4 linked regions of the Homo sapiens genome follow. The gene in region 3 interacts genetically with the main gene of each other region. Each region holds a gene or a part of one and is shown on either strand. Other genes may lie near its edges. The genes, in order: PTPRJ, LIG1, NAMPT and DUT.

The links.
Region 1: changes in NAMPT (region 3) and PTPRJ together harm fitness more than expected from each alone (negative genetic interaction), as found in Homo sapiens cells (one large-scale study listed by BioGRID).
Region 2: changes in NAMPT (region 3) and LIG1 together harm fitness more than expected from each alone (negative genetic interaction), as found in Homo sapiens cells (one large-scale study listed by BioGRID).
Region 4: changes in NAMPT (region 3) and DUT together harm fitness more than expected from each alone (negative genetic interaction), as found in Homo sapiens cells (one large-scale study listed by BioGRID).

The regions. Positions count from the first base shown.
Region 1 is NC_000011.10:48,168,449-48,175,687, reverse strand, and holds the end of PTPRJ (receptor-type tyrosine-protein phosphatase eta isoform 1 precursor), read right to left. Parts: 3' UTR 4,849-7,239; downstream 1-4,848. UniProt on the Homo sapiens protein: Tyrosine phosphatase which dephosphorylates or contributes to the dephosphorylation of CTNND1, FLT3, PDGFRB, MET, KDR, LYN, SRC, MAPK1, MAPK3, EGFR, TJP1, OCLN, PIK3R1 and PIK3R2. Plays a role in cell adhesion, migration, proliferation and differentiation.
Region 2 is NC_000019.10:48,130,930-48,138,777, forward strand, and holds part of LIG1 (DNA ligase 1), read right to left. Parts: intron 6,760-7,848; coding exon 6,593-6,759; intron 6,156-6,592; coding exon 6,079-6,155; intron 5,197-6,078; coding exon 5,105-5,196; intron 4,851-5,104; coding exon 4,751-4,850; intron 3,138-4,750; coding exon 3,052-3,137; intron 2,169-3,051; coding exon 2,053-2,168; intron 243-2,052; coding exon 147-242; intron 1-146.
Region 3 is NC_000007.14:106,243,503-106,250,943, forward strand, and holds the end of NAMPT (nicotinamide phosphoribosyltransferase precursor), read right to left. Parts: 3' UTR 4,796-7,441; downstream 1-4,795.
Region 4 is NC_000015.10:48,331,638-48,339,485, reverse strand, and holds part of DUT (deoxyuridine 5'-triphosphate nucleotidohydrolase, mitochondrial isoform 1 precursor), read right to left. Parts: coding exon 7,691-7,848; exon of another isoform or gene 7,630-7,690; intron 7,290-7,629; exon of another isoform or gene 7,235-7,289; coding exon of another isoform or gene 7,219-7,234; coding exon 7,080-7,218; intron 5,070-7,079; coding exon 4,978-5,069; intron 3,441-4,977; coding exon 3,396-3,440; intron 1-3,395. UniProt on the Homo sapiens protein: Catalyzes the cleavage of 2'-deoxyuridine 5'-triphosphate (dUTP) into 2'-deoxyuridine 5'-monophosphate (dUMP) and inorganic pyrophosphate and through its action efficiently prevents uracil misincorporation into DNA and at the same time provides dUMP, the substrate for de novo thymidylate biosynthesis.

The sequences.
Region 1 (7,239 bases), on a different chromosome or scaffold from region 3:
CTGTCACCCTCTCTTTCTTGCTCCTGCCCTTGCCATGTGACATGCTGGCTCCCGGTCACCCTCCTCCGTGATTGTAGCTTCCTGAGGCCCTCACTAGAAGCAGATGCCAGCACCACACTTCCTGTATAGCCTGCAGAGCCATGAGCCAAACTAAAACCTCTTTTCTTTATCAATTAAACAGTCTCAGGTGGTGTTTCTTTACAGCAATCCAAGAAAGGCCTAGCACAGTTTGCTTCTTTTTCATTTGCCTATTCAAGTTACAAAAGGAGGGGGGCGGGGTGTTCATTATTATAATGTTCATTGTGGATGAAGCTGTAAAGAAACAGGCATTCTCACACACTATAATGAGAGTGTAAATTGCTATCTAGAGAAAAATTTAGCAGAATTTCATCTAAGCGTTACCTTTTTTTCTTTTTTGAGATAGGATCTCACTCTGTCACCCAAGTTAGAGTGCAGTGACACAATCTTGGCACAACCTGCCTCCCAGGCTCAAGTGATCCCCCCCACTTCAGCCTCCCAAGCAACTGGGACAACATGCATGTGCCACCACACTCGGCTAATTTTTTGTATTTTTTGGTAGAGATGACGTTTTGCCTTGTTGCCCAGGCTGGTCTCAAACTCCTGAGCTCAGGCAATCCACCTGCCTTGGCCTCCCAAAGTGCTGGAATTACAGGCATCAGCCACCACGACCAGCCTAAAGCCCTACCTTTTTATATATTTCGATTCATTAATTTTATAGAAAAGTTTACTAAGAAATTAATTGTGATGTCTGCAAAGATCTGGCTACTGTGATAGATGCCACATCCTTATTCACAGGAGAGTAAAATCAGAAATAATCTAATGGCAATCAATAAAAGAGTAGTTAACTCGAGAGTGGTATGTGTCCATACTATGGAGTATTATGCAGCTCTTAAAATGGTGAACAGGATGAATACCTAATAACACAGAAAGAGTTCACAATATGTCAAGTATAAAAAGCAAGTTTCAGCCAGGCACGGTGGCTCAGGCCTGTAATCCCAACACTTTGGGAGGCTGAGGTGGGCGGATCACCTGAGGTCAAGAGTTCAAGACCAGCATGGCCAACACAGTGAAACGCTGTCTTTGCTAAAAATACAAAAAAATTAGCCAGGCATGGTGGCACATGCCTATAGTCCCAGGTACTTGGGAGGCTGAGACAGAAGAATTGCTTGAACCCGGAAGGCAGAGGTTGCAGTGAGCCAAGATCATACCATCGCACTCCAGCCTGGGTGACAAGAGCGAAACTCTGTCTCAAAAAAAAAAAAAGCAAGTTTCATTAGCCAGGTGTGGTGGCACGCACCTGTAGTCCCAGCTACTCAGGAGGCTGAGGTGAGAGGATCACTTGAGTCCAGGAGTCTGAGGCTACGGTGAGCCATTACAGTGCCACTGCACTGCAGCCTGCATGACAGAGTGAGACCTCGTCTCTAAAAATAAAAATTTTTAATTTTAAAAAAGAAGCAAGTTTCAAAAAATTGAGCACAGAACCAACTTAAAAGGTTAGCAGCCAGGATAGTGGTTAGCTTTGCCAGGGTGTGGCTGAAAGGGGGCACCAAGGTGGCTTATGGCATGCTGGTCGTATATACTTTTTAATTTGGGTGCTGGTTATATGGGTGTGTTCATTTTTGGACAATTATTCAAACAGCCAACCTATGATTAGTGCATTTTTCTGTCTGTATTACGCTTCAGTAGAAATATTACTCAAAGAAATATGTTAATCTTAAAAAGAAATATGAACATGTTTGATTCCAGTTTTGCAAAAAGATGAAAGCAAATACATGAAGATGAAGATGTATGCATGTGTGCACATATGGGGGGTGTGTGTGTGTGGTGTTTGTGAGAATTCTAAAGGTTACAGAATTATTTACAGTAAAATGTTAACAGTGGTATTTCCTATGTGGTGGGATATATTAGCCCATATTAGTTATCTCTTGCTGTGTAACAAATTATCCCAAAACAGAGCAGTTTGAAACAGTAAACATTTATCATCTCAGATGCTTTCTGCAAGTCAGGGAGTCTGGGTAGGTTCTGGCTTGGGGTCTCCCAGGAGGCTGCAGTCAAGCTGTCGGCCAGGGCTACTGTCATCCAAAGGCTGACCTGAGAATCTGCTTCCAGGCCCACTCATGTAGCTGTTGGCAGGAGGTTCAGAAGAAGCCCACCACGTGGGCCTCTCTCAAGGCTGCTCAGAACATGCCAGCTGGTTTTGGAGAGAGTGCCGTGGGAGGGGGGCTGGAGGGAGAGAGACAGCGAGAGAGAAACTGCACAGTTTTATCTCAGAAGTGGGATGCCATCACCTCTCTGCAATCTACCAGTCACACAGACCAACCCTGCTACAGTGGAGGAGGGGCTACACAAAAATGTGAATACCAGGCGGGAGGATTATTGGGGGACATCTTGTTGAATGGTGACAACATAGGATTTTTTTATTTTCCTTCTTTTCCTAAATTTTTTTACCATGAACATATTATCTAACAAATTATACGGAAAGCTGCCAGCTGCTGGCAAGGGCGCTTCCTTCGCCCTGTTGCTGGTTTTTAGCCTTGCCTTACGGACCTCCTGGTTTCTTTTCCAATCCTATGTGCTCCACTGCCCTGCCACAGCCTAGCCAAGGATTGCTTCCACAGCCCAGTTCTCTGCCGCCATCTAGTGGCATCATCCAAAACTGCTGGCCCCAACAGGGGCCCACTACTCACCTTTTGGGTCAGGAGGCTTCACCTGCCTGCAGGAATGTAAAGCCCAGGCTCTCATGTTGGAGGCCCCAGAGATCTGCCACGTTCAGCCCCAAATAGAGCTGTGAAACCCCAGAAGGGATGGGATGGCTATCAGAACTTGGAAGCTTGGCCGGGCGTCGTGGCTCACGCCTGTAATCCCAGCACTTTGGGAGGCCGAGGCGGGCGGATCACAAGGTCAGGAGATGGAGACCATCCTGGCTAACACGGTGAAACCCCATCTCTACTAAAAATACAAAAAAATTAGCCGGGCATGGTGGCGGGCGCCTGTAATCCCAGCTACTAGGGAGGCTGAGGCAGGAGAATGGCGTGAACCTGGGAGGCGGAGCTTGCAGTGAGCCAAGATCGTGCCACTGCACTCCAGCCTGGGTGACAGAGCGAGACTCTGTCTCCAAAAAAAAAAAAAAAAAAAAAAAAAGAATTTTGTAACTTGACTAGTAAATTTAAAACTATACTGTAGCTTCACTTTTTTGAGGCAAGGAGGGAAAAGTGCTAAGTTTTAAACTAGTTACTCTTAAGTACTCCATATTCATTGGGAGAAGTTAGAAACTATAAACAGGTGAATATAAAAATAAAATCCACTCCTAATCCCACTATTATATTATTCTAGAGTTGTGTTTCTTTTCTTCTATGCACTTATTTAATTCTTATTGGGATTGTTCTCTGTTTATAGTTCTATGAATTTGTTTTCTCACTTAAGCTTTACATTTTATAAAACCACAGGTGATCATTCGGTTTTTCTTTCCCACAATATCTCAATTCCTAGGCTATACCTGGGTAAGGTAGTTTTTATCAAACTAAGTGCTAGGAGCAGAGAATGCTGTGCTATTTTGCAGGGTAGCCTAGTTTGGTTTGTTTTTTTTTTAAGTATGCAGATAACAGGTCAGCAATACAGTGTCTCCCTGCCTCCTCTAAACCAACACTGTGGGCAGAAAAGTTCTGGGACAACTTTGGCCTGAATCAAAACAGGAAGATGATGGATACTTTATCCGCAGCCCAAGCGCTGTCCCTAAGCAGAAAGCCCAGGAGAGCTAACTATATCATAACACACCCCCAACCAACTGGGTATCCATCCACCTGCAGGCTCATACCTCCAACCTTCTGGGAACACACACAATCTTAAGACACACAGCCACTTCCTCCAAGCCTCCTCTTCACTAAATTGCCCTGAATATGTGTTACAGGCTGAACTGGGTCCCTTCCAAAACTCATATGGTCAAGTCCTAACCCCCACTAAAACAGAATTTGACTACATTTGGAGTGTCTTTGAAGAGGTAATTAAGGTAAAATTAGGTCAATAGGGTGGGCCCTGATCCAGTATGACTCGTGTCCTTATAAGATTAGCCGGGAGCGGTGGCTCACGCCTGTAATCCCAGCACTTTGGGAGGACAAGGCGGGTGGATCACGAGGTCAGGAGTTCGACACCAGCCTGACCAACATGGTGAAACCCTGTCTCTATTAAAAATACAAAAAAATTAGCTGGGTGTGGTGGCAGGCACCTGTAGTCCCAACTACTCGGGAGGTTGAGGCAGGAGAATCGCTTGAGCCCGAGAAGCAGAGGTTGCAGTGAGCCAAGATCATGCCACTGCACTCCAGCCTGGGCGACAGAACAAGGCTCCATCTCAAAAAAAAAAAAAAAAGAAGGAGATTAGGACACAGACAAGCAGAGGGAAGACCATGTGGAGGCATGGGGAGAAGACAGCCATCTGCAAGCTACGAAGAGAGGCGCCTGAAGGCTGGGGCAGGAGAACTGCTTGAACCCAGGAGGCAGAGGTTGCAGTGAGCTGAGATCACGCCTCTGCACTCCACTCTGAGCAACAGAGTGAGACTCTGTCTCAAAAAAAGAAAAAAAAAAAAGGCCTCACAGGAAACCAACCCTGCCCACATCTGGATTTCAGCCACCAAAATTGTAGGAAGTAAATCTCTGCTGTTTAAACCACCAGTTGGTGGTACTTGTTACAACAGCCCTAGAAAACTAAAACAATCCGGAAATCCCAAAGAGAAATGTGTTTTTGTTAAGGATGCCCAAGTAAAATGCAGGCCAGTAAACTGCTTGGCACATTGTAAGAAGGAAAAAAGAAGAAAGAAAGAAGCAAAGGCATAATGCATTGACATTTTTTTATATTTGGTATTTGTAAGTCTTTAAAAAAATGTTTTCAGGCCATTTTTTCCTTAAAAAAAAAAAAAGCAACCAACAGCAATACTCTGTACAAGTATAACAAACATTAGAAATATGCATCATTCCAAAATAGTTACAGGAAAATTACAGTTTAGAGTCCACATCAACACATCCTATTTGTATGTGCCCCCAAGGGAGAAAAAGCTACAGTATGTTAAACACACAGCTGCTACACAGTAGTCTGAAAACCCAGGACTTAAAACTTTTGAGGCAAATCAACAACAGTCACCAAGACTTGTTTAGCTCAATAAGTACAATCAAGCATTTCAAAAGAGAACCAGGCTTTTTCATCCCAGATGAAAAACACACGTGATGGGCTGCATAGCTGACCCCCGCCCCTCGATCCCCAACCCCCGGGAGCCTCTGACTCAACAGAGCACAAATCCAGTGGAGTCAATTAGGCGGAAGTCTGGCTGGAGGTCACAGTATGGCTGCAGTGGGCAGACACCAAATGTCATTTCCTGCTGGTGCTGATCATCACTAGATCCAACTTTGGAGGCAAAAAGTCGTTGTTCCTGGGAGATGCTATCAATGGCCCAAATCCCCCAAACCAGCTGGCCACCAGTCTTTGGCCCTTTCATTGACACCCAAACCCATACCAGCTGCTTTTCTGTATGCAATTGTCAAAGACTGAACAGGGGTGCTCACACCATCCCCCCGATTCCACTGGACTCTTCCAATTTGAGCTCATTGTTCCTGGGAGGGGTTGAAGCTCAGAGGCACCCTCCTCTTGCCTCTGACCAACCCCCAGCCTGTGTGTCCTTTATATTTACACATTAATCTTCCCTTTTCAAGCACTGTGCTATAAATACCCTTACCACCCCCACTGGCCCTGTCCCCAGCCCTTTTCAGGATGCAGAGAAGCATCGTGACCTTCGTGTGACCTGCCCATTTGGAATCCCAGACCGCTCCCCCGCAAGAGTTCCTCCCATGATTGCTGGGGCCGCTTGCCCATTTCCCAAGCCCACACCAGGCGGAAGGGAAGAGGGTTCCTGTGTTTTTCATTTTTATACAATATGTTTACAGTTATGTTGCTTTAATCTTTTAAAGTATTTAACCTTTTAAAGGATTTTTTAGCAACAAGTCCCTTCCTCTGACTTCTCTGTGGCAGTGATGTGGGCAGAGCAGGGCTTAGGAGCTCCCTGGGATTTGCCACCCATCACAATGGTTTCGGACATATTGGAGGGGAGAGGGCCACAGCCCACAGAACTGCTGCCTGAACAGGGACCTATGAATGAAGTACCGACCGCTCCGAGATCTGTATGAGTTGGAGGCAGGCCAGTGTGAAGGTGTGGGAGGAATCCGCCCACACCCAGCTTCATACAGCACCCTGAGGACAATGTGGCTTCCCTGATTCACACCTACTGAGCCAAGGCCCCCTCTGAAGTTAGGTCAAGAGGGCCCACCCTAGCCGGGCCAACTCATTCCTTTGAGGACCTGATACTCAATGAACTGCTTACTACCAAAAAAATGCAAAGGATTCAGCAAAAAGTGCAATTTCCATTTGAGAAGTAAGATTCTCCCCAAAACATGACACCACCTTTTCATCCTTTCAGTACCTCAAAGGGAAAGGGAAATAAAAGGCATACAGCACTAACCCTCCGAACCACAGCCGGGGCTTTAAAAGTGTGGTTCACCCTTTAGAACCCTAAAAGACCCATTAACACGTCCAGTCAGTTATCGAAGTGCCAGTGAGGTGAGGGGCGTGGCAGAGTCAGGAGGGACCAGGAGGCTGGAAGAGCCCGCTCACATTCTCAACAGGACACACCTGTCCTGTTTACAGCAGGACACATTACTGTGGCAACAGCCACAGGACTCCAGGGACTTGGTTATTCCTTCATAAAACCTTGTCAACTTCATTGCCTATTGGAGGATAAACTCAAAACATCTTCAAAATATAACCTGAGCCACAATATAAAATAAAAAGAAAAAATCTTTTCATGTTAATGCCTTAAGAAGTTTACAGATTATGTACCAATAAAATAAATCCACATAAATTTGAAATTCTTGGTGGATACACACCTGAAGCAAAAAAAAAAAAATTAATCTACATTTTAAAAATCAAAGTAATTACAGCAGCAGTATAGTGAAAAGGTTTTAAAAATAATAATTACATCTTTGATACAAATTCAAACTTTGTACACCTCAATTCATAGGAATGACTGTTTTTGAGAGCTTAGTGTATATATATATATATATATATATATATATATATATATATATATATATACACAGTAGATTCCGATATGTGTCACGGCAGAGAGAGACGAAAGCCAGTGGACTTTGGGGAAGGAGGGATTAATCTGACACTGAATT
Region 2 (7,848 bases), on a different chromosome or scaffold from region 3:
TGAGTGCTCTGTCATTTGCAGCCAAACGCAACCTGATCTCCTCCCAATAAACCCCGCACTGTGCCACACTGGCCTAGATGGGCCTCAGGCCTTTGCACCCCTGACCACAGACCCTGGCAGAGTGCAAGTGTGTGGCAGACGCCCACCTTGGGGATGCGGCTGATGATGTCCGGGTACTTCCCAGTGTTGTCTTCCTGATTCCTGCTGAAGATCTTCACCTCCCCGCCTTCCAGGGCGTGGATCTGTCACGATGGGAGAAGGGAGGGGAAATCAGCTGAGTCCCCTCATGTGGCCTCAGCTTTCTCTTCTGACCCCACCTGCACTGGTAGAAGGTTCTGGAAGCTCTGGAGGAGGAACTGGTGCAGAGACTTGAGCGAATCATCTCCTCAGTTCCAACAGCACCTCCCAGCCCTGCTCTGGAAGGCCCTACCATCATTTTCTTCTTCATTTCCAATCCCTACACCTCTCCCCATGTAGGCACATGCACCTTGCTGCATGTGGGTGCTGATTTGTTTAAATGTCATTATGCTCTAGATCTCATTCTGATTTTTTTTTGAGGCGGAGTCTCGCCCAGGCTGGAGAGCAGTGGTGCAATCTCTGCTCAATGCAACCTCCACCTCCCGGGTTCAAGAGAGCCTTCCGCCTCAGCCTCCCAAGGAGCTGGGATTACAGGCGCCCACCACCACACCTGGCTAATTTTTGTATTTTTAGTAGAGCCAGGCTGGTCTTGAACTTTCGACCTCAGGTGATCCGCCCACCTTAGCCTCCCAAAGTGCTGGGATTACAGGCGTGAGCCACTGCGCCCAGCCTCTATGTCTATTTATTTTAAGACAGTCCGGTCACAGCCCTTGAGCAGGGCGGCATATATAGCATCTTATATGTTTGTTATTATTTCCAGGAACAGTTGTCAAGAAATCATTGTCACTATCGTAAATCATCTTGTGTCTTTTTTCTCAACACTATTTTGGAGATCCATCTCTGATCCTGTGTCTGTTGGATCCACCCTTTTTTTTTTTTTTTTTTTAAAAGATGGAGTCTCACTCTTATCGTGGAGGCTGTAGTGTAGTGGCACGATCTTGGCTCACTGCACCCTCTGCCTCCTGGGTTCAAGCAATTCTCCTGCCTCAGCCTCCCGAGTAGCTGGGACTACAGGCACACGCCACCACACTGGCTCATTTTTGTGGTTTTAGTAGAGATGGGGTTTCACCATGTTGGCCAGGCTGGTCTCCTCAGGGGTCCACTTCCTGTAACTGCCCCGAGCCCTGTGGCTCCCACCCACTTTGCCTGCTTACCTATCCCCAGGTGAGAAGGCCCCACACTTGCCAGGACAGAAGAGACACAACACATTCTTACAGACCCCAGGACCAAGGACGCCTGAGGCCCTGGATCACAGGACACACATGCACGTCACGGCATGAAGGGGTCATGTAGGCACCTCCCAGAACGGCTGTTAAAATGAACACACCCACCAGCAGCATCAGCGGAGCCCACGTTTCATGAGCTCCCACTATCATCGGTCAGGACTCTGGAGGATTGTAGCTTCGGATAAGCTGGTGAGGTAGTTAAGACCACACCCTAGAGGCCAGGCACGATGGTTCATGCCTGTAATCCCAGCACTTTGGGAGGCTGAGGTGGGTGGATCATGAGGTCAAGAGATCGAGACCATCTTGGCCAACATGGTGAAACCTCGTCTCTACTAAAAATACAAAAAATTAGCCGGGCACGGTAGCGGGCGCCTGTAGTCCCAGCTACTTGGGAGGCTGAGGCAGGAGAATCACTTGAAGCCAGGAGGTGGAGGTTACAGTGAGCCAAGATCATGCCAATGCACTCCAGCCTGGATGACAGAGTGAGACTCTGTCTCAAAAAAAAAAAAAAAAAAAAAAAAAAAGAACACACTCACTGCATGGAGGTGGATGCTGAAGCCCAGAGAGATGAGCGAGGGCTCGGCAGTCTGTGGCGCAGGCCGGCTTGAAGCTCAGGCCTCAGTGACCCCACACCCCTGCTCTTTGACGTTTTCCTGTCTGTGGAAGGGACATGTCCCACTCCCCATACCTGTGCCCTCTGCCCGTCATATTTGTATTCGCAGGTGAAAGCTGCCTCCTCAAAGCGTTTCAGGACCTCGCTGATGCCCCGGGTGGGATGGGCCAACATTGGTTTCAGGGGAATCCCTGGGAAAGGAGGAGAGTGAGTTAGAGGAGAGGGAAGGCAATGGATTAGAGGGGGAACATGGAGAGGAGAACTGCTAATGGGCCCCAGGACCATTCTGCTTTCTTGCTATTCAGTCACGAAGCCTCCCACGTTTTAGAAGGGGACCTAGCCTCCCACTGGGGACTACAGCCCCCGGCCTTCCTTCCAGGTGGGAAAGGCCATGTGATTGGAACCCACGCAGCATGTGCAATGTCTGGCTCACATCCTTGCAAGGAATCTGGTTGCCTCCCCTCCCTCCTCTGCGTCCCTCCTCCCACAATTAGAACAGGGAAGTGAGCCACATTTGATCACAGACATTGGGGTGACAACCTTTGGAGGGCAGAGGGACACAGGAACCTGGGTCCCCGGGTCATCCCTGGGACACAGCTGCACACCTGTACCTTCCCTGGCCACCTCCCTTGCTCTGGACACTTCTGTGTGACAGAAAGAAATTCTATCTGGCCTGACCCACTGCCTTCTGGCCCATTTTTATTTACTTATTTATTGTCTCACTCTGTCGCCCAGCTGGAGTGCAGTAGCGCGATGACGGCTCACTGCAGCCTTGAACTCCTGGGCTCAAGCGATCCTCCCACCTCAGCCTCCCGAGTAGCTGGGATCACAGGCACACGCCACCACGCCCGGCTCCTGTTTATCACAGCAGTGTCACCTACACCCTATCTACTCCACAAGGGGAAATTCCAAGGAGAAAAGCAGTGGGTTTCAGCACCAGGGAGGAGCATTTGGTTTTGGTGGGGGAGAGGACTCTGCAAGTTCTGAGAGGGGCGCCTACGATGGCCACCCTCACGCCGACTCAGGAGGGAGCAGGGCTGCTGCCAGGCTGGTGAGCGCCCCTGGGGCCTGTACCTGGGCTCAGCTTGCAGTGCTCCGGGAGACGTTCCAGGCCGTGCTCCAGCAGCACGGGGATAATTCGGTCCAGGTCGGGAACCTCGCTGGGGTGGCGGGTGAGAACAAGATAGGGGAAGCCTTTCTAGAACTCACACAGTTTGGAAAGAGAGCTCGGCCTGCTCCCAGAAGCCTGGGCTCCTGGATGCCTCTGCCCACTGAGTCACCACCTGCCAAGCTCCTCTTGCCACCCTGTCTCTGTGCTCTCCCTTCGTGTCACTATCTGTTGCTTTGTCTCCCTTAGTCTGGCCTTGCCCCTGTTCCCTATCTGTCACCACGAGACCAGCGATTCTCTACTCGGCTACACAGGAGACCACTCAAGAATACAGTTTTTAAAAAAAGGTTTTTGGCCGGGCATGGTGGCTCATGCCTACAGGCATGTAATCCCAGCACTTTGGGAGGCCGAGGTGGGTGCATCACTTGAGCCCAGGAGTTCAAGACCAGCCTAGCCAACATGGTGAAATCCCATCTTTACTAAAAATATAAAAGTTAGCTGGGGGTGGTGGCACGCGCCTGTAGTCCCAGCTACTCAGGAGACTGAGGCAGGAGAATCACTTGAACCCTGGAGGCGGAAGTTGCAGTGAGCTGAGATTGTGCTGCTGCACTCCAGCCTGGATGACAGGGCGAGACTCCGTCTCAAACAAAATAAAAATAGACAAAGGTTTTCAAGGCTAGGTTCCACCTACAAAGATTTTGATGTAGCTGGTGTGGGGTAGGCCTGAGGTCAGCAGCTGATAGAGCCCCACGTGCAGGCAGAGTTGAGCTTGCTGCCCGGGCCTGTTCACCACTCTCTGCTCAGCACCCAGTGGGGGGCCCTGGCCCAGAGCAGGTGCTCTGAGGCCATCTGTGGAACTGCCATCGGCCCTCCTGCCTCTGACATCCTCTCTGGGGCAGTCATGATCTTGGAGTCACCAGCCCTGGGTCAGCTGCTGGCCTAGGTCCCTCCACATGGCTCTCTCTGGAGCCCTCGTGGCCGCTCCACGGATGTCCTCTCCATGACTGTCAAGACCCTTCACCATGTGTCAGTCACCTGCTCCTCTCTGGGTCCCTTAAGGCCTTTCTGCATGCACAGCCCTGTCTGGCACTCAGAAACCTCATGTTGCCGGCTGCCCTCCCTTGCTGTCAGCGTCTTTCTTTTTTTTAAGACAGTCTCACTCTGTTGCCCAGGCTGGAACGCAGTGGCGTGATCTCAGCTCACTGCAGCCTCCAACTCCTGGGTTCAAATGATTCTTGTGCCTCAGTTTCCCAAGTAGCTGGGATTACAGGCTAATTTTTGTATTTTTAGTAGAGACAGGGTTTCACCATGTTGGCCAGGCTGGTCTCAAACTCCTGACCTCAAGTGATCTGCCTGCTTCAGGCTCCCAAGTGCTGGGATTACAGGCGTGAGCCACTGTGCCTGGCCGCTGCCAGCGTCTTTCTATACCTCTCCTGGGGTCACTGACCCTTCACTGTTTGCCACCTTCCTGATCTTTGTCACCATCCTTGTGTCAAGCACCAGCCTTGTCTAGATCACCACCTCTGCTCTCAGTCACCCCGTGACCGGCACTCGTGATGCCTGTCCGTCACTTCACTGGCCCCACCCACTGCTCCTCTGGCTCCACCCCCACCCTGGCACTCTGCCCACAGCCCCTGGCAACTCCACCCACTGCCCAGCTCTCACCAGAACGTCTGCTTCAGGATCATGCCTTGCTCCTCCAGCCACGTCTTTCTGGCCTCTGCTGTCTTGCCCTTCCCAGCATCCACCATGGCTGGTGGGAATTCTAAGAAAAGACCCACCAGAGGCTTTGGAAGGCACCCACATCCTTGGCTACACCAGGGTGCAGTGGGTGGTTTGCTGTATGGCAAGGAATGCAGATGCCGCGGCCCAAGACGCCCCCTCCCCCCCACCCAGGAGAGAGGAGCCTGGTATGGCAGGGGCCCGCTGGGGAAGGGGCGGGCATGGGCCTCTGAAGAGGAGGGGGGAAGCCTGAGGTAACTCCAGCGAGGGATGCAGAGACGGGCCACAGGAGCTCACCTTGGCCCGGGGGCGTGAGGCTCACTGCCTGGGAGAGGGCAGCCAGCACCGACTGCTCTGCCAGCCCAAGGCGCAGCCGTCCGCTCAGGGACCTGGGGAGAGAGCAGGCCAGGGAAGGGGGCTTGTCTGCACCTCCCCAATCTTGCCTCCTCCCTTCTCTGATCTCCTCGACCTTGATGTATGTAGACCCTCTCCTCAAAAACCAGAAGAATCTTCAGAGCCTGGAAGGGACCCCAGATATCACACAGCCCCATGTGACAGATGAGGAAACTGAGCCAGGCAGTAATGATCCTGCCCACTAGCATAGACTGGGGAGGGGCACAAGTAGGTGCACCAGCACCTCCCATCTCAGCTGCCCTGAGGGGTTGGCGAGGCTTGAGGAGGATGAGTCAGGGAGAGAACTGAGCCTGGCGCCCGCCCTGGTGACTGTAATGGTCAGGACCCCAGCATGGTCCTTGCTTTGAGCCAGTGGCAGGAGACAAGTGGCTTAGTTTGCCTCCCCATGTCTCCATTTCCCCTTCTATAAACTGGAGGTGAGGGTAACAAGACCAGTCTCACAGAGTTGCTGGTAGGAACTGATGAGGTAAGGCACGGGGCACAGGGCAGGGCTCCCAAGAAATGCTCCATGATGTGAGCCCTCAATGGATTTGCTCTCACTGTCATGGCAAACAAACCCTGGCTTCCTGCTGCAGGGCCCGCGCCCAAGCCGAGGCAGACCTCACCAATCAATCACAGCATGCTTCACCCACAGGGGCCCAGGGGCCTTCTCTAGACAGCACTACCAAGGGACAGAAGCTGGCCTGTGAAAGGAAATGGTGTCCCTTCCCACTCTTTAGGGGCTGGGCCTCCTGCTCATGCTTTTCTCATCCAAGGATGGTCAGGGCATTTGTGATGATTCCAGCTGCCAGTCCCTCCCTCCTTTCACCTCCGAGCCTGCAGTCCCCCTCTGTAGCCTCACAGGCCCACACGCTTACCTAGCGATGAACCGGGCTTCTGAGTGGCGGCAGGCCACAAAGAGGCCTTTGATGATGTCTATCTTCTTGGCTGTGGACTGGAGAGTCAGGGGAAGAGCCGTCAGTGCCTGGTGAAGGCAGGGACCACACCTCCACCCCACCAGCCGTGCTGCTGCCCTGCATTTTGGAATACCTGCCCTCCTTCCCTCACCCCATCCCCATGTCCCAGCTCCCATGGCCGCCCACTCTTAGGGCAGTAAGAACGAGCTAGCTCTCCTCCTTGCCTCCCTCTCCCTTTATCCAGGAAGTATTTACTGAGTCCTGTCATGTGGCAGCCATGGCATTAGGTCTGCTAGACTCTGAAGAGGAGACTCCCCTAGGATTGGGTGCAGGAAGGAGGAGAGGAAGCTGTGCACCCCATGAGAAGGACTGATGCGACCCAGCTGATGGTCTACCCAGAAGCCTTCCTGACACACGCGTGGCCTCAGGTCCCCAAGATGTCTGGGGTCCGGGATGAGCGGCCCGCCCCACTCACAGCACTGCCAGTGAGCCTGGCGATGTCGCGGAACTTGCTGAAGACCCCGGAGGCAGTGAGCGGAGGTGGTGGCAGCATGAGCCTCTGGGTGCTGCGGCTGTTCTCGGCCACCAGCCCCACGTCGCCTTTCTCGGCTGCCTCAGCCCGGACGGACTCCAGCTGCCGACCTTCAGGGGAGAGCGCGGGTGGGGGTGTCGAGGGTGACAGTTGTGGCTGCGTGTCTCCCTTCTCTCGCGGCCTGGATGAATTTTCTCCAGCTGTGTGTGCTTGTGGCGAGTCCCTGCACCTCCCTGTGTCTAACGCTCACCCACTTGGTAGAAATGGCTTGGGGAACGTGCCCCCAGCCACGCTGGCTGTAGGAAGTCAGCAAACATGCACGTGGAGCCAGGAAAGCGGTGGATGAACGAGCATGACCACACTCAGGGGAGACATCTGGGCCGGTGTCATCAGGGCGCGGATGGGATTTAAAGCCACAGGCGGGACAAGGTCACTAGGGAAGTGAGTGTGGACAGAGCAGAGAAGGCCAAGGGACCCTTTCCTCTGGCGGGTCATGAACATCTCTGGCAGTGACCAAAGACCCTTCGGCTTGTTTTGGAGCCACCAGCTTACACACGTGGGATGTGCTCTGGCCCCACTTACTGTCCAGAGCTGGGTCCCATGGGCGCCTGGGTGTAAGAGCTGGGGAGATGGAGCCTCAAGTCACGGTGACAGCTGTGACAAGCAGCTCTCAACCTATCAGAACCAACACACCCTTGTCACCAGATACTGTGTGTCACCTCTTTTCTGGTCTGAAATAAAATGTGGAGATAACATAACCTGCCTACACCTATCGAGATAACGCCCTAACCCTAACACAGAAAAGAATGAAAGGGAAAGCAATCCGTAATGAACGAACAAGTGCGCGTTTCAGTCCACAGATGCTCAGCCGCGGCACAGAGCACATGAAGGTGGGCCTCGCGCCTGAAGCGAAACTGCCACAAATGGGAGAGCCGACAGTGTGAGCCTCACCAATGGGATGTTATCGAATCACACATCAAAGGGGACGGGATTCTCCAAAGTGGCCAACAACTCACAACAAACCCGGGACTTGGACAGCCACGGGGGCCACAAGGCGGCACGGAGAGCAGTGTGAGTGTGAACACGACCCATCAAGGGTGGAGGCATGAGACAGTGGAAGAGGCCCCAGCTGCCATGGATTGTTGGGCAGGAAAGCCAGCATCTGCAACTTCTTTTGTGAGAAAAACAGATCCTTCTTT
Region 3 (7,441 bases):
TTAGATAATTTCTGATTACAAGTTGAGTAATACAGAAATTACTTTCTGAAATGCTTGGGACCAGAAGTGTTTTAGATTTCAGATTTTGGAATATTTGCATTTACTTACTGGCTGAGCATCCCTAATTTGAAAATCTGAAATCCAAAATGCTTCTAAGGACATTTACTTTGAGTGTCATGTAGGCATACAAGACTTTATTCCATGTTCTGGAGCATTTCAGATTTTGGATCTGGGATGCTCAGCCTGTACTTCAGGAAGAAATTTGAGATTCTGAAATAAGAGTTGGAGAGAAGACACAGATTATAATGTTATTTAGTAGGTAAATCAATAGGATTATGTGGCCGATTAAATGTATAGGGTAATGGAGAGGGAAGTTTCATGTTGGGGGCTGCCTGAGCTGCCAAATGAGAGAATCAAAATAAATATAGTAAGTTCTGGGGGAATATGGTAAGCTTGGATTTGTTGCATCTGAGTGGAAATGTATCAGTGACAGGTAGAATGATTTAGAAGTCTGGGCTGGAGACATAAATGTGTGGAGGCTGTAGTAGATAGCTCATAGCTGACACCACGTGAATGGCTGACATCAGCCAAGATGAACATGGAGATAAATGGGATGTGTCAACATTTAAAAATGTGTGAAAAACAGACCGAGAGAGAAGGGACAGTCCACAGGGATTAGAAGACCCCAAAAGATCATAGAACAAAGTAGTAAAGAAATGAATTCTTAGTAGTGGCAAATGCAGGAGAGCCCTCAGATAATGTAATAACAAAATTTATTCATTTGGCAATTAGAAGGTCACTGCTTTGTCCAATAAGAGGTGAGAACCAGATGGAAGATAACTGAATGGGAGGTGAGGCAGTAAATGGAGAGAAGTCTGATGTAAATGGGAGAAGGGAGGCTAGAGCTGGTGTTATCAAGGGAGTTCTTTAAAAAAGGTGTGAGAAAAAGGAACATGTTTGTTAGCTGAAGAGGAAGGGCTGGAAAGCGAGAGGCTCAGAGATCTGGCAGAACAACTCTGGCGAGTCAGGAAGACCTAATCAGAATTAAACGTGTAGCCAATTCAAGAGAGTTTGTAAGCGAGATCGTTAATCCATCTCTATAAAAATTACAAAATGCCCATGCCTATGTCCTGAATGGTAATGCCTAGGTTTTCTTCTAGGGTTTTTATGGTTTTAGGTCTAACGTTTAAATCTTTAATCCATCTTGAATTGATTTTTGTATAAGGTGTAAGGAAGGGATCCAGTTTCAGCTTTCTACATATGGCTAGCCAGTTTTCCCAGCACCGTTTATTAAATAGGGAATCCTTTCCCCATTGCTTTTCTCAGGTTTGTCAAAGATCAGATAGTTGTAGGTATGCGGCGTTATTTCTGAGGGCTCTGTTCTGTTCCATTGATCTGTATCTCTGTTTTGGGACCAGTACCATGCTGTTTTGGTTACTGTAGCCTTGTAGTATAGTTTGAAGTCAGGTAGTGTGATGCCTCCAGCTTTGTTCTTTTGGCTTAGGATTGACTTGGCGATGCAGGCTCTTTTTTGGTTCCATATGAACTTTAAAGTAGTTTTTTCCAATTCTGTGAAGAAAGTCATTGGTAGCTTGATGGGGATGGCATTGAATCTGTAAATTACCTTGGGCAGTATGGCCATTTTCACGATATTGATTCTTCCTACCCATGAGCATGGAATGTTCTTCCATTTGTTTGTATCCTCTTTTATTTCCTTGAGCAGTGGTTTGTAGTTCTCCTTGAAGAGGTCCTTCACATCCCTTGTAAGTTGGATTCCTAGGTATTTTATTCTCTTTGAAGCAGTTGTGAATGGGAGTTCACTCATGATTTGGCTCTCTGTTTGTCTGTTGTTGGTGTATAAGAATGCTTGTGATTTTTGTACATTGATTTTGTATCCTGAGACTTTGCTGAAGTTGCTTATCAGCTTAAGGAGATTTTGGGCTGAGACAATGGGGTTTTCTAGATAAACAATCATGTCGTCTGCAAACAGGGACAATTTGACTTCCTCTTTTCCTAATTGAATACCCTTTATTTCCTTCTCCTGCCTGATTGCCCTGGCCAGAACTTCCAACACTATGTTGAATAGGAGTGGTGAGAGAGGGCATCCCTGTCTTGTGCCAGTTTTCAAAGGGAATGCTTCCAGTTTTTGCCCATTCAGTATGATATTGGCTGTGGGTTTGTCATAGATAGCTCTTATTATTTTGAAATACGTCCCATCAATACCTAATTTATTGAGAGTTTTTAGCATGAAGGGTTGTTGAATTTTGTCAAAGGCTTTTTCTGCATCTATTGAGATAATCATGTGGTTTTTGTCTTTGGCTCTGTTTATATGCTGGATTACATTTATTGATTTGCGTATATTGAACCAGCCTTGCATCCCAGGGATGAGGCCCACTTGATCATGGTGGATAAGCTTTTTGATGTGCTGCTGGATTCGGTTTGCCAGTATTTTATTGAGGATTTTTGCATCAATGTTCATCAAGGATATTGGTCTAAAATTCTCTTTTTTGGTTGTGTCTCTGCCCGGCTTTGCTATCAGAATGATGCTGGCCTCATAAAATGAGTTAGGGAGGATTCCCTCTTTTTCTATTGATTGGAATAGTTTCAGAAGGAATGGTACCAGTTCCTCCTTGTACCTCTGGTAGAATTCGGTTGTGAATCCATCTGGTCCTGGACTCTTTTTGGTTGGTAAACTATTGATTATTGCCACAATTTCAGCTCCTGTTATTGGTCTATTCAGAGATTCAACTTCTTCCTGGTTTAGTCTTGGGAGAGTGTATGTGTCGAGGAATGTATCCATTTCTTCTAGATTTTCCAGTTTATTTGCGTAGAGGTGTTTGTAGTATTCTCTGATGGTAGTTTGTATTTCTGTGGGATCGGTGGTGATATCCCCTTTATCATTTTTTATTGTGTCTATTTGATTCTCCTCTCTTTTTTTCTTTATTAGTCTTGCTAGCGGTCTATCAATTTTGTTGATCCTTTCAAAAAACCAGCTCCTGGATTCATTGATTTTTTGAAGGGTTTTTCGTGTCTCTATTTCCTTCAGTTCTGCTCTGATTTTAGTTATTTCTTGCCTTCTGCTAGCTTTTGAATGTGTTTGCTCTTGCTTTTCTAGTTCTTTTAATTGTGATGTTAGGGTGTCAATTTTGGATCTTTCCTGCTTTCTCTTGTGGGCATTTAGTGCTATAATTTTCCCTCTACACACTGCTTTGAATGCGTCCCAGAGATTCTGGTATGTTGTGTCTTTGTTCTCGTTGGTTTCAAAGAACATCTTTATTTCTGCCTTCATTTCGTTATGTACCCAGTAGTCGTTCAGGAGCAGGTTGTTCAGTTTCCATGTAGTTGAGCGGCTTTGAGTGAGATTCTTAATCCTGAGTTCTAGTTTGATTGCACTGTGGTCTGAGAGATAGTTTGTTATAATGCATTGCCTAGTTTATGTCAAAGAAATAACAGCTCAGTAGCCAATTACGGAATTTAAAAAATATATAAAGCAGGTCAGGATAACTGTGTTTCTAACTGAATTCTGCTGCTAACCATGAAAAATGGCGCTTCTCTGGGGTGAACATAAATGAATGAGTAATAAACCACGTACAAGTGGGATCTGGCCTCCGACTTTGTAGAAAACCAAAGTACACACCTGCTTCCATCTTCTCCTTTCTTCTAGAAGGACCCCTATCATTCAAGGCCAATACCCTACCAAGTGCTTTGGATCTTACCTTTCTCCACCTTCTCTGGAACCCCAAATCATCACTGATGTCTTTTTGCTTTTATTTTCAACTCCTCCCTCTTTCCTGGACCTTTTTCAGATGTAAGGCTACAGCTAGAAGGACAAAGATACTATTGCCTCATTCTCTCCTCCCTTTTCGCAACCCACATTCAAAGAGGTATATAAGGGAGCTTCTTTCAGAAATAAGCCTCTTCTACTACCTGGAAAGGAATGTGTCTAAGGCACCAATTATTTCCAGGTGGCTAAATCCAGTAGCTGTTTTAAATTCTTCATCCTATTTGATCTCTCAGCAGCATTCAACAGCTGGGCTGAAAAATGTTTCCTCTGGCTTTTGTGACTTCACTCCTTCTGGTTGGAACTTTCATCTCTTTAGCTATGCTTGTCATTTGGTCTGCTCATGTTCTGCCACTTAACCTTCAAGAGTTACTCATGGTTTAGCCCTAGATTCTCTTTATACTCTAGCAGAGATCAGCACACTTTTCCTGTGAAGGGCCTCACAGTAAACTATTTTAGTTTTTACAGCCATAATTTCTCTGTTGCAACTAATCAGTGTTGCCACTGTGGCAAGAAAACAGCCAAAGGCAGTAACTAAATAAATGGGTGTGGCTATGTTCCAATACAGTTATTTACAAAAACAGATGGTGGGCTGGATTTGGCTCATGGCGTGGGGTTTGCCAACTCCTGCTCTATACTATCCCTAGAAGAGTATCCTTTACTGTGTGCTTCCAAAGATGTATACCTTCCAAGGTATACATCAGTCATACCTTGAGGCCCTTCTGTCCACAAACCTGTATCATCAACTGCCTACTTAATACCTACATTTAGATATGTCAAAGGCGTCTCAAGCCTTAACACGGGAATCGTGCTCTTTCCTCTCAAATCTGATGTCCCTCCAGTGTTCTTCCTTAGTAAAAGGCACTGTCATCTATACAGTTGCACAAAGCAGAAAAGGAGTCAACTCTGACACTTGCCCTTCTCTCATCTTCTAATTCTTTGAACTGGAGGAATACTTAAAACAGGTAGGCCTGAAAATGGCATTACTTGAAGCACACAAATTTAACACTTCACTAATAGAGCTAAACTTTATTTCCATGTTTATTACATGTTTATAACTTGATGTTGAGTACATATTAGAATAGACTTAACATACAACTTGGGAGAAAAGCTGACATTCTCCACTGAATGGGTTAAAAAGGAATGTAAAACTACAAAATACTTAAGTGTGAGTTCTAAATTATGGCAAACAGAACAATAAATACCTTGCCATTTTTCTTTCTAATTTTCCAAGATAGATTTCATTATAAAAATTGTTTGATAACAATTTAAGAAGGGAAAACAAGGGATACTCATAAAAAACATTTTACTTTAATTATAGGGTACAAATAAGAGTCTTAACACAGAAATCCTACCTCCTATTTAAGATATAAATACTTGATGATATAATCAATCAAGAGGGATTAATTAATGTCAGTTGAAAATCTAATGACTTAAATCCATAAATGCCATTTGCTTTTGTCTGGAAGATTTAGACTGATTTAAGGGTGACACACAGCAGAGTTCTAGTGGACATTCGTGTTAACCGTTTGGTGCTCAGAATGGAGATGGCCAAATACCAAGTGCTTAGTGACAGAAAGTCAGAATTAATCAGTTCCAAGTGACTAAGAGCCAATAGAATTAATCTCCATCTCCTGATTTATGGTTGTGAACAAAGAGATAGCTTTTTTCACTGCAAATTTCTAAATTAAACTCTATTCTGAAGCTGCTGAAATTCACAGAACACAGAGAATACTGTCTGTACTATAATTTCAATGTTTAAACACAAAATTATGGGTGATTATCAAAACTATTATTGGTAATAGTTTCTTTTGATTCTTTACACGCCCCTTAGCACATTTTGTGAAGAAATGTGTGTTTTTCTTAATACTACTCATCTTTACTCAAATACATTAAAAAATCATTTTAAAATTATTTTATATCATGGATTACAGAAGACTTACTAAAAGTGAATAATGCTTATTGTTCTCACTACATGTTTAAAGAACCATCTGAAAAACATATTCTTTCTAATACCACTTACAAAAAACATTTAATGAAGATAACACTTCTAATTAGGTTATTCTAGTGATCATTTTCTCATGTAACTATTTAAAACAGATGATTTATGGCTTTTCAATTTTTAAAATTTCACATTTAATGTCATGTTAAAAACTTTTCTAAATCAGTCTTCCAGTATCGGATTCTTAAGTGAGAAAAAAGAAGACAAAAGAGGAAAATTCCGTATCAATTATTTAGCCTCCTCCCTTCCCTAGAAACCAACATTTCCTTTTAAATGCAAGGCACACTCCTTTTCTTAGAACAGAGATCAGGAAACTTTTTGTGTAATTTTGTGTAAAGGGCAGGTTAATAAACATTTTGGGCTTTGCGATTCTCATTTGGCTTCTATTGCAGCTGTTTACCTTAGGCTGGAGTAGTGGGAAAGCAGCCATAGACAATCTGCATTTATAAAAAGAAGTCCAAATTTGGCCTTTGGGCTATAGTTGGCCAACCGCTGCCTCAGAAGAACAGATCTACATACATAAAAGAATCATTCGAAAGAAACTGGTCTCTAGTCAGATGTGATGTATGATTCAGAATCTAGTAGCTAATCACTCTAGAACATTTTGATGTCAAGCACTTTGAATTTAGCCAACTTAAGATTCTTCTATTGAAACACATGTCATGCTTTTCATTGGAGATAATTTATCTTCATTTAAGAATGTGCTTCAGTATTACTTATTGAGGGCATTCAGTTTAAAATTAATAAATGATGTCCATACAATTTAATATCCAATTTAATTTTTTAAAAACTTAATAAAAAATATAACAGAATTGAAACATTTAAGTACACTCACTACCCACTCCAGTAATTCATTTAAGTCATACCAACTATAGAATATGAAAAATAAATTCAGAAGTGTAATTACTTTAAAATACACTACTTCCACTTTTGTAAGTATTTTACATTTATGTATATATTCTATAGTGGAAGCAGAAATTCTCTCTAAAAACATTATCTCCTTAAAATCTTGAGGTGCATATTAGAGCCACAGGCAATCTCTGACATATAAAATTGCAGTACAGGCCTTTCAAATTTGGCATTTCACTGGTACAATACAACAACCAAGATATATAATAACTGTACAGTGCCTAGACATTCCAGTAAGAACCATTATTTTCTTTAATGTAGAATGATTAATACATATTCTACAAGGGGCAGTAAGGTTAGTAATTCTATAGGGTATGTCCCGACATAATTTTCAAATTGTACAATAACACAAACAACTTTGTTAAGGCCATGTTTTATTTGCTGATTAATGGACAAAAGGCAATGTAATTTATTTTCAAGTATTTTCTTGAAAGTCTGTGCTCATAAAAATCATGAAAAGTTGGAAAGACTGTTAAATCACTGAAACTTCAAATATATCTTACACAATCTTGTTTGTACAAAAATACAAGTTAAATATAAACATAAAGCAATCATGGTAATTTTATGCAAATCTGTTTTATGTGATCATCAGTTATATATAAAAGTTTCTCAGTTCTGTTATTTGTGAAAAGATCAATACCAGATTGAATGACTACCTATTGGCAAAGGGCCCTAAAAAGCTTACTTTAGCACTCATCTTTTACATGGTTAAATGCATTTCCTAATTTGAGATCACCTAAACACTGGAA
Region 4 (7,848 bases), on a different chromosome or scaffold from region 3:
TGTTGTTCCATGCTAGAAAAAATGGCCACAGTAGGCTAGAGAACTTCCATGCTGGGAGATTTTGAGGTACAAGCTAATAATTCATCTATCTTGAATGAGTTAGAGAAAGACATGGACTGACTTCTGAACTATTGTTTCTACTTTATTCAAAAATTTTTAAATAACTAAAACAATACAAATACATATAAAGTAAAAGCTTATAATATTCTCTTACCCTCCCTGAGATAGCTAATGTTACAGAAATATATCTTACATACTACTTTATTTTTTTCTTTTTATCCTTTGAGATTAATATATGTAAATGTTAGCCATTCTTTTTAGATACAAGATATGGAAATATGGGTTCTCTCTCTCCTTCTCTTTCTTTTTTTGGCAGGGTCTCACTCTTATAGCCCAGGCAGGAGTATAGTGGTATGATCACAACTCACTATAGCCTCAACCTCAAGTGATTCTCCCACCTCAGCCTCCAGGTACAAAGGCACCACCACACCTGGCTAATTTTTGTATTTCTTGTAGAGAGAAAGTATCCCTATGTTGCTCAAATAAGCCTCAAACTCCTGGGCTCAAGCAATCTGCCTGTCTCAGCCTCCCAAAGTGCTGGGATTACAGGCATGAGCCACAACGCCCAACCTGTACCATTGTTTCTATGTAACTATTCTCTTGCATAATATCAGACACAGGCTGCTTTTACATTTTGCTATAATAAATGAAGCAGCCCTTTAAGTATATCCTTGTATATGAATGCTTTTTATTTTCATCAAATAGGTTGCAAAAAAGGTGTAGCCACTCAAACTTCCATCAGCAATATTTGAGAATGCCCATTTCCAAAATCCTTGCCAATATTTGATGGCAACAATCTCTTACATTCTGGCCAATATGATGAGTACAAAATGGCTATCTCATTGCCTTACTTTTCATTCCCTGATGACTAGTGAGGCTGGATTTTTTTCCTCCCATTTGTTGGACATTTGCATGTCCTTGTCTATATTTTGTGTATGTTTTTTTCTCATTTGTTCTTTTTCATATAAGTTGCAAATATTTGCTTGTTGGCTTTATAGTATCTTCTAACATACAAAAACACTCCCTTTTTGAAAGGCCTCTGCTAACGTATCTGTAAAGCAGTCCTATCAGAACTACTCAAATGATTGGGTGTCTTGAATCCTGCAGATAGGTGATCTTTATGCTTGGGCCACGAAAATGTGAAAAACCTTTAAGTGACTAAAAGAAATTAAGAAGTTTGAAGTCAATTCAAATGTATGGCAGAAAAAAAGGCCCTCAATAGTTTTTTTTTTTGCATGAATGTTGACGGTATAAAAATTTCAGTAGTTCCAAATTCATTTACCACCCAATTGCCATTCGACCTCCAAGAAAAGCCTTCTCTGCCTACAGGATATAAGTATCAGGGATATTTCTCCTCAGAGAAAGCAGAAAGTAACTTGAAGTTATCACTGGAAAAATCATGCATTGGAACTGGCAGAGTGATTAACTGACTTCAGGCAAAAGTTTTACTGTGTCAAGAGTTTGGCATGTCATTTGTTGGAAACCTTTTTTAGTGAAAAACTATCCACACCTACCAGATGTGAATTCTGAACAGAATCCTGAATGCTCAACTTTTCCCTTTGACCCTTATTTAGAGCCTGGGATTTCTAACAACATCTCTCTTCAGAAATAAAAACTGTTGCCAACTATGATAAACTTGTGCCTAAGGGAGATTGTTAAGATTCTCTGCATCCAAGAACACACCACAATGTGATTTTATGAATAACACCATACCAACCACTAGGCAAACTAACTTTCCATTCTTTTACATGAATTTTTTTCCAGAAAGTTGTTTTAAACAGAGCAAAAATTAGTAACAAAGTCGAATAAAAGAAAAAGTTTCCACATAAAAACAATCTGTGAAGTCCCTAAGGACAGAAATTATATCTCACAGAATCTAATATGTGCCAAGTACTATATTAGGTATTTCATACACATTATCATTTAATCCTCCTACCTCTAGAGGCAGGCACACTAATTTCCATTGTAAAATGAGGAAACAGGCTCAGAAAGGTTAAGTAATAACTAGTTAATGACAGAGCTGGGACCTACATCCAGTTGTTATTCCAAAGCTCCCGTTCCTTGAACAATCATTTGAAACTTCATTGAAAATATATACAATTATTTATATCCTTAAGTTACTGTCCCAAAATGACCACAGTTGACCTTGTAAAAGCATTTTTGAACATCGGGCATAACTTACAGAGCCCAAGGAATCCTCAACCCAAGAGTGGGCTGTCAATGTCCACCCTGCTATGTAAAACTCAGCTCCCCTTTAGTCCCTAAAGGGTGTACTTTTGGGGTCCTGTCTTGTCCCACAGCACCACCTGGTGACACTATGGAGAGACACCACACCCACCAAATGTTAGACTAAGGGGCAGGTCTAGGATAGCCAGGTTTCATTAAGTGCTTAGTTAGCCCTTGCAGTGGCACATAAAAGTGAGCTAATTCTGGACGTGTTTAGTTGGTGAGGGGGATGCAGCAGGGTAATCTCCACAATTAATTGCAGTGGAAAGAACAAGGAGGCTGGAATCACACAGAGACTCCAGTTTTTACCACATATCCATGTGGGCTCATTTCTAAGCCAGTTTTCCTGATCTGTTAACAAGCCTCCATAAAGCAGCTCTGTAAAAACGGGTGGAGGAGGAGATCTAGCACACCTACTTATGTGGGGGCCAAGGTATCTTGTTAAGTGAAAGATTCACTACTGATGGGATAAAGGGTCAGTATGTAAGGACCACATAAGTGGGGTCTGAATCCCAGTTGGAGCGGACCTGAAACAAGGAAACCACATCAGGAAAGTAGAAATTTCCTTACAATAAGAGGAGTAGCTCTGTATCAAGAGTAGTTAGCAGAGGACACTGAGGGTTCTTCATGAAAGGTACCACATGAGGTAGGGTTAACTTTGAGACAAACATGAGAAAGGCTTTATTATAAGGGAAACAGGTAACACAGAGGACTGTCTTAACAAATTTAGAGAAAAGTGTTTTCTCTCCTGACTTCAGGGAAAGATTTTCTTCTTAAATTTTGCTAAAGACAGATAGCTCTCTTATGAAGAAAATTCTTACAAGATAGACCTGTGTTTTCTAGAACTTTTGTTGCTTAAATAATTACTTAATTATTATATCATTAAATCTGTCATTATTAATTAGGTAATCATTATTTTAAAAATTAAGTTAGTAGTTAAACAAAATATAATTACTTAAAATAACCACAAAGCTTTTCCTCCTATTATAACAAGCTTTCCTCTAATCATTTTCTTTTCTTAAAAATAAAATCTGTCATTTGAATATTACCTTTTAAAGACAAAGTAAATACTTGCAAACATTTACAGAATAAAAAAGGAAATATATTACCTCCTACATCAATAAAGTGTTTTGCAGCCAAGCCTGACCGTGGAGCTAAAAAACAAAAAAGGAGACATTGGTTATTTTAAGGGGGAAGGGCTATATCAGAGATAACTGATGCAATTTAAGCATGTCATTCTCTTCACCTATAATATCTATATCTTCATCTTAACTTTAGCACATGGTTTTGAATTAAAGAATATATATTCATCATACTGCATTACCAAAGTTGGAAAGACTAGTTTAGAAAAATTCCACAAGGTTTTAATTCAAAACTAACTTAAACCACTCCCATGTGACTTCAGTCAGAATTTGTGGTGCTGCAGACAGGGGAGAAGGACTGCTAGAATGAGCTGAAAGGTGAGCAAGCGGGAACAACTGTAGGCTGCTCTTTCAAGAAGTTAAGCCTCAAAGGGGAAGAAAGAGAAGTATGGCCAGCAGGAACACACTACTGAGGAAGAAGACTTTGGTTTTAAGATGGGACACCACAACATGTACAATGCAGATGGGAAGGGAAAGGAAGAGGAAGGGAGAGGGAAACAAACCTAACCAAATAGTAGCAGACCATAGCCTACAACTTGGGACCCCACTATTCATGATTCAGATGCCAAAAGACATGCCTGTAGGAAACACATGAACCAGAGTAAGATAAATGGGCTAATATCAGTTAAGTAAAAATGCCAAAAACTAAGTCTCAATGATTCAATGCTAGTATACTTTTTAATCCTAAAAAATGAAAAAAATAAAAAGCTAAGGTTACACCTTATTATTGCAGACTCAAGCATCAGGCCTATAATTAATTATCCTAACTTCCAGCATTTTATTTTAGAATAATTTAAATCAGGCACTTTGTCAATAATGCTGCCTCTTTCTGTACTAACCTTTATTTCACTCCATCTCCTGCCCCTTCCCCTGAAAAAATTCTAAAAAATGGAGTCAATGATGCTCAAGAGATGAGATGAGAGCCCATCTTGTTATCTTTTAAGGGCTGAAGTACTGGCAGTTTCCTCACTCATGGCTAATAATATAGTGCCAGTCTAGCTCCTTTCCCTGGAGGAGGGCGTCACAGCTCCATTGCCTCCTTTATGTTTACTCTGAAGTTAGTCAAAAAGAACTTACGCTCTTGCAAAGAACTGTCTGGTAACAACTGATCCGCTCCAGAAAAATCAAACCTGTTGACGTGTACTCCATTTTGTCCTAGCTCCTCCCAGTGCCTCTACAACACTGAAGAGTATCCCTTACCCTAACCCCATGGCCAAACAAGAAAAGGTTAAGTAGGCTTACACATTCTGGGACCAACAGGTCAGAAGTTTTACTCTCATAATATAAAATGCCATGTTCTGAGAACAGCCTTCTAGGCCAGTGTGAGCCTAAAAGCTCCAGTGAGGAAGGAGAAAAATAAAAGGGTCAAAAAGAGGCAAAGCAGAGATGTAAATAAAGCCTTTCAAAGAGTGCATTTGCTATCACAAATGGTGCTTCTTTTAGGACACAGCCCAAGCAATATTGCCTGCTTATTACCCCAAATGAAACATGAAGAATCTATCACAAAGGAGAACTTGACAAATAGTTACCTGTTTCTTAAATGACTTACCCACTCTTCCATAACACCCAGAAGGGAGCGCTATCTGAATGTCCGTTTTCACAACAGCTTTCTCCATAGGTGGTATTGTGTAATCATAGGCACTAAGAAAATATTGAAAGAAAATAACTGCAAATCTATTTATAAAATTGTTTTTATATTTTCTTTGTGACCAAGCATACAAAATTACTTTCAGTGTATTTAATGAATTAATGCAACTTTAGTTTCTAAAATCAACCTTGCTATGATGAATTACCAATTCATCTTAAAAGTTTATGAAGAAGGTAGAGGTGGCTATTTTATTATTAAAAAGACAGCTTTAGATAAAATAATTCTCCATGAATATTTTTGGTGGTGTGAAGAGATGTCAACATTGTAAATGTTTGCCCCTGAACAAAAGTTTATTGGAAACTGAGGTACTTATCAGCGTGAAAGGGCAGAAAGGCAAACTTTCAAAAGGTGGATGCTTTACAACCATAGTTTGAAAAGGAAAAAAATGAAGAAAGAACAAAGAAAAAAGGCCAAATACTACTAATAATACTAGCTATCATTGATTAAGCCTTTACTGTGTGCCAGGAACAGTTCTAATTGGTTTACATATATTAACCCATTTTATTCTCACAATGATCTGTGTGATTAGGGAAAATATGCAGAAGGAAAGGAGAAAAACGGGTGGACAAAATAAGAGATAAAGAACTGTGTTGTATCTGTCAGGCAGGGCTTGGTAGTTTACCAAGCTTAGGCTATGAATTTCCTGGCTGAGGGAGACAGCTGATCACCGTGAACGGCCCCTGGAGATGGACCTTGCTTAGGAACAGAATTCCTCTAAAGTCCACATAGCAAATGCTGCTACTCTTGATATTACTGTGGCCCTCTCCTGGGTAGAAATTTAAGAGATTTTACAATGAGCAGAACCGGAAGTTTACTTTGGAGACCTTAATTAACTCTGGTAAAGCAGTACTACCCCTTCTTTCACTGAAATCCCTCTTTAAACAGTTAAGCCCTAATTTATTGCTGATCCATTATTTCCATGTCAATTTCAGTATACAGAAAGTCACCTGTGTTTATTAGGAGTCTACTTAAGGTATCTTAAATCAAGGACTCCCCTAGGACTCAAGAAAGTGCTCCAAAATATACTTTGGAAAGGTCTAGTCAAACTATATCACTCTACTTTTATTCATCAAAATTAAGAGACTGTAGTTTTTCCAGCTACAATTGTCCATACCTACTTTCCTTTTCCTTTTTTTTCTGTTGCTATCATCAGGCACTACTTTCTCTTCTCCTGTGCTTAGACTAATAGTTCTCATGTTTGAATTATCTGAGATACTTTAAAATAAATCCCAATGCTTGGGATTTAGTATAAAATCTCCTTCCCTCTCAGCATTACTTTTCTCCTACCTTAATGGTTCTAAGAACTGGGCACAGTAGTCAGATGAAAAAAAAAAAGCCCAAAATTCGGGATAAAAAATTATATCATCTTCAAGCCTCTGGGGAAATCAATTCAGCTCTTCACAAACTCCTGCCTGTGTAAAAAGTAACACTTATCTAGTTAAGGATTGTTGTGAGGACTAAATACAACAGCATACGGAAAGTTTTTAGTACAGGTAAAACGTGCTGTAGAGATGAAAGTGTGGTAGATTACAGGCAGCTCTGCCTTTCGTTTTCAGATGCCTTCTCAAATTCCGCCCTGGGCCGGATGAATGTATAGAAAATAACTTTTTAAGGCAGATGCATCTTCGTTCATCCTTCTTAGGTATTTTCACGCTCACATCTAGGCTCTCACCTTGGTTTTTCTATTGAGCACAGCATCACCCTCGGGCCACTCGAAAGCCACCATGGGCCTTCCTCTCTATCTTCTATTTAGGAAGGGCACAATAAACGTTGCAAAGTAACGCCTTGCTAGACACCGTATAGCTATTTTACTTATTCTGCAGTCTTTGCCCAAATCTCTATTTAATTTATGCCAAAGATGAAAGCTAAAATTTTAAACACGAAAAAGGCAGAAATCCTATTTATAGCTAGTGTGTTCCTGTGATCTCTCCGGTGACTGTTTCTAGCTGTGGCAGCGGACGGCCGGCCCTTCCCAGCCTCCTCGCCGGCAGGTCCCCGCTCACCTGTACAGGTCGTAGCCCGCGGCGCGCGCGGAGCCCCGGGTGGGGGCCGTGGCGTGCTCGGAGAGCCGGGCAAAGCGGAGCTGCATGCCGCCCACCTCCGCAGGCCGGGCCCGCTTACTGGGTGAAATGGCGGGTGTCTCTTCAGAGCAGGGCATGGCAGAGCCAGAAGGCGAGCGAGGAGACCACCGGGGGAAGAGGAGAGCGCACGATGAGCGTCGCCGCAGGGAGCGCGCCAAAACCGAAATTTCCCGCCAGCCCCGCCCCACCCACCGCCCCTCCCCGGGACGAGTCCACAGTTCTGGCTGAGAGGGGAGGCGGGATTCACATTTTGGGTTTGAAGCCCTTCTCGGAAAGCAGGTTTGGGATGGGAAACTACTGGGTCCCAGTCAACTTTCCACATTCAGCGCGTGGGGCCAACTTTGAAGGGGAGCTTCTAGGGCGTCGCCCTCACACACTAGAAAGCCGCCCCCTCGCCAGGGGACCCTAATGGACCACCCCACCCCCCCCGCCCCCCGCGCGCAGAAGGACCGCTCGCCACCCTACTTCCCCCACAGCCTCAAGCCGCGTGGATTCCTTCCAGACGGCCGGAGCCCCTCCCCCGCCTTTCCTACCCGGCCCCGGCGCCGGGCTTCCCCCCGCCTTAGGAAGCTCGCCCTTCCAGCCAGCGGCCCCGACTGTACTGGCTCCGCGGCAGCCTTGGCTCAGGCGGCCAGCGCTGGACAGCGGCCGGGGAATCCCGTGCTGCGCGGCGCGGCCGAGGGGCGGGCCT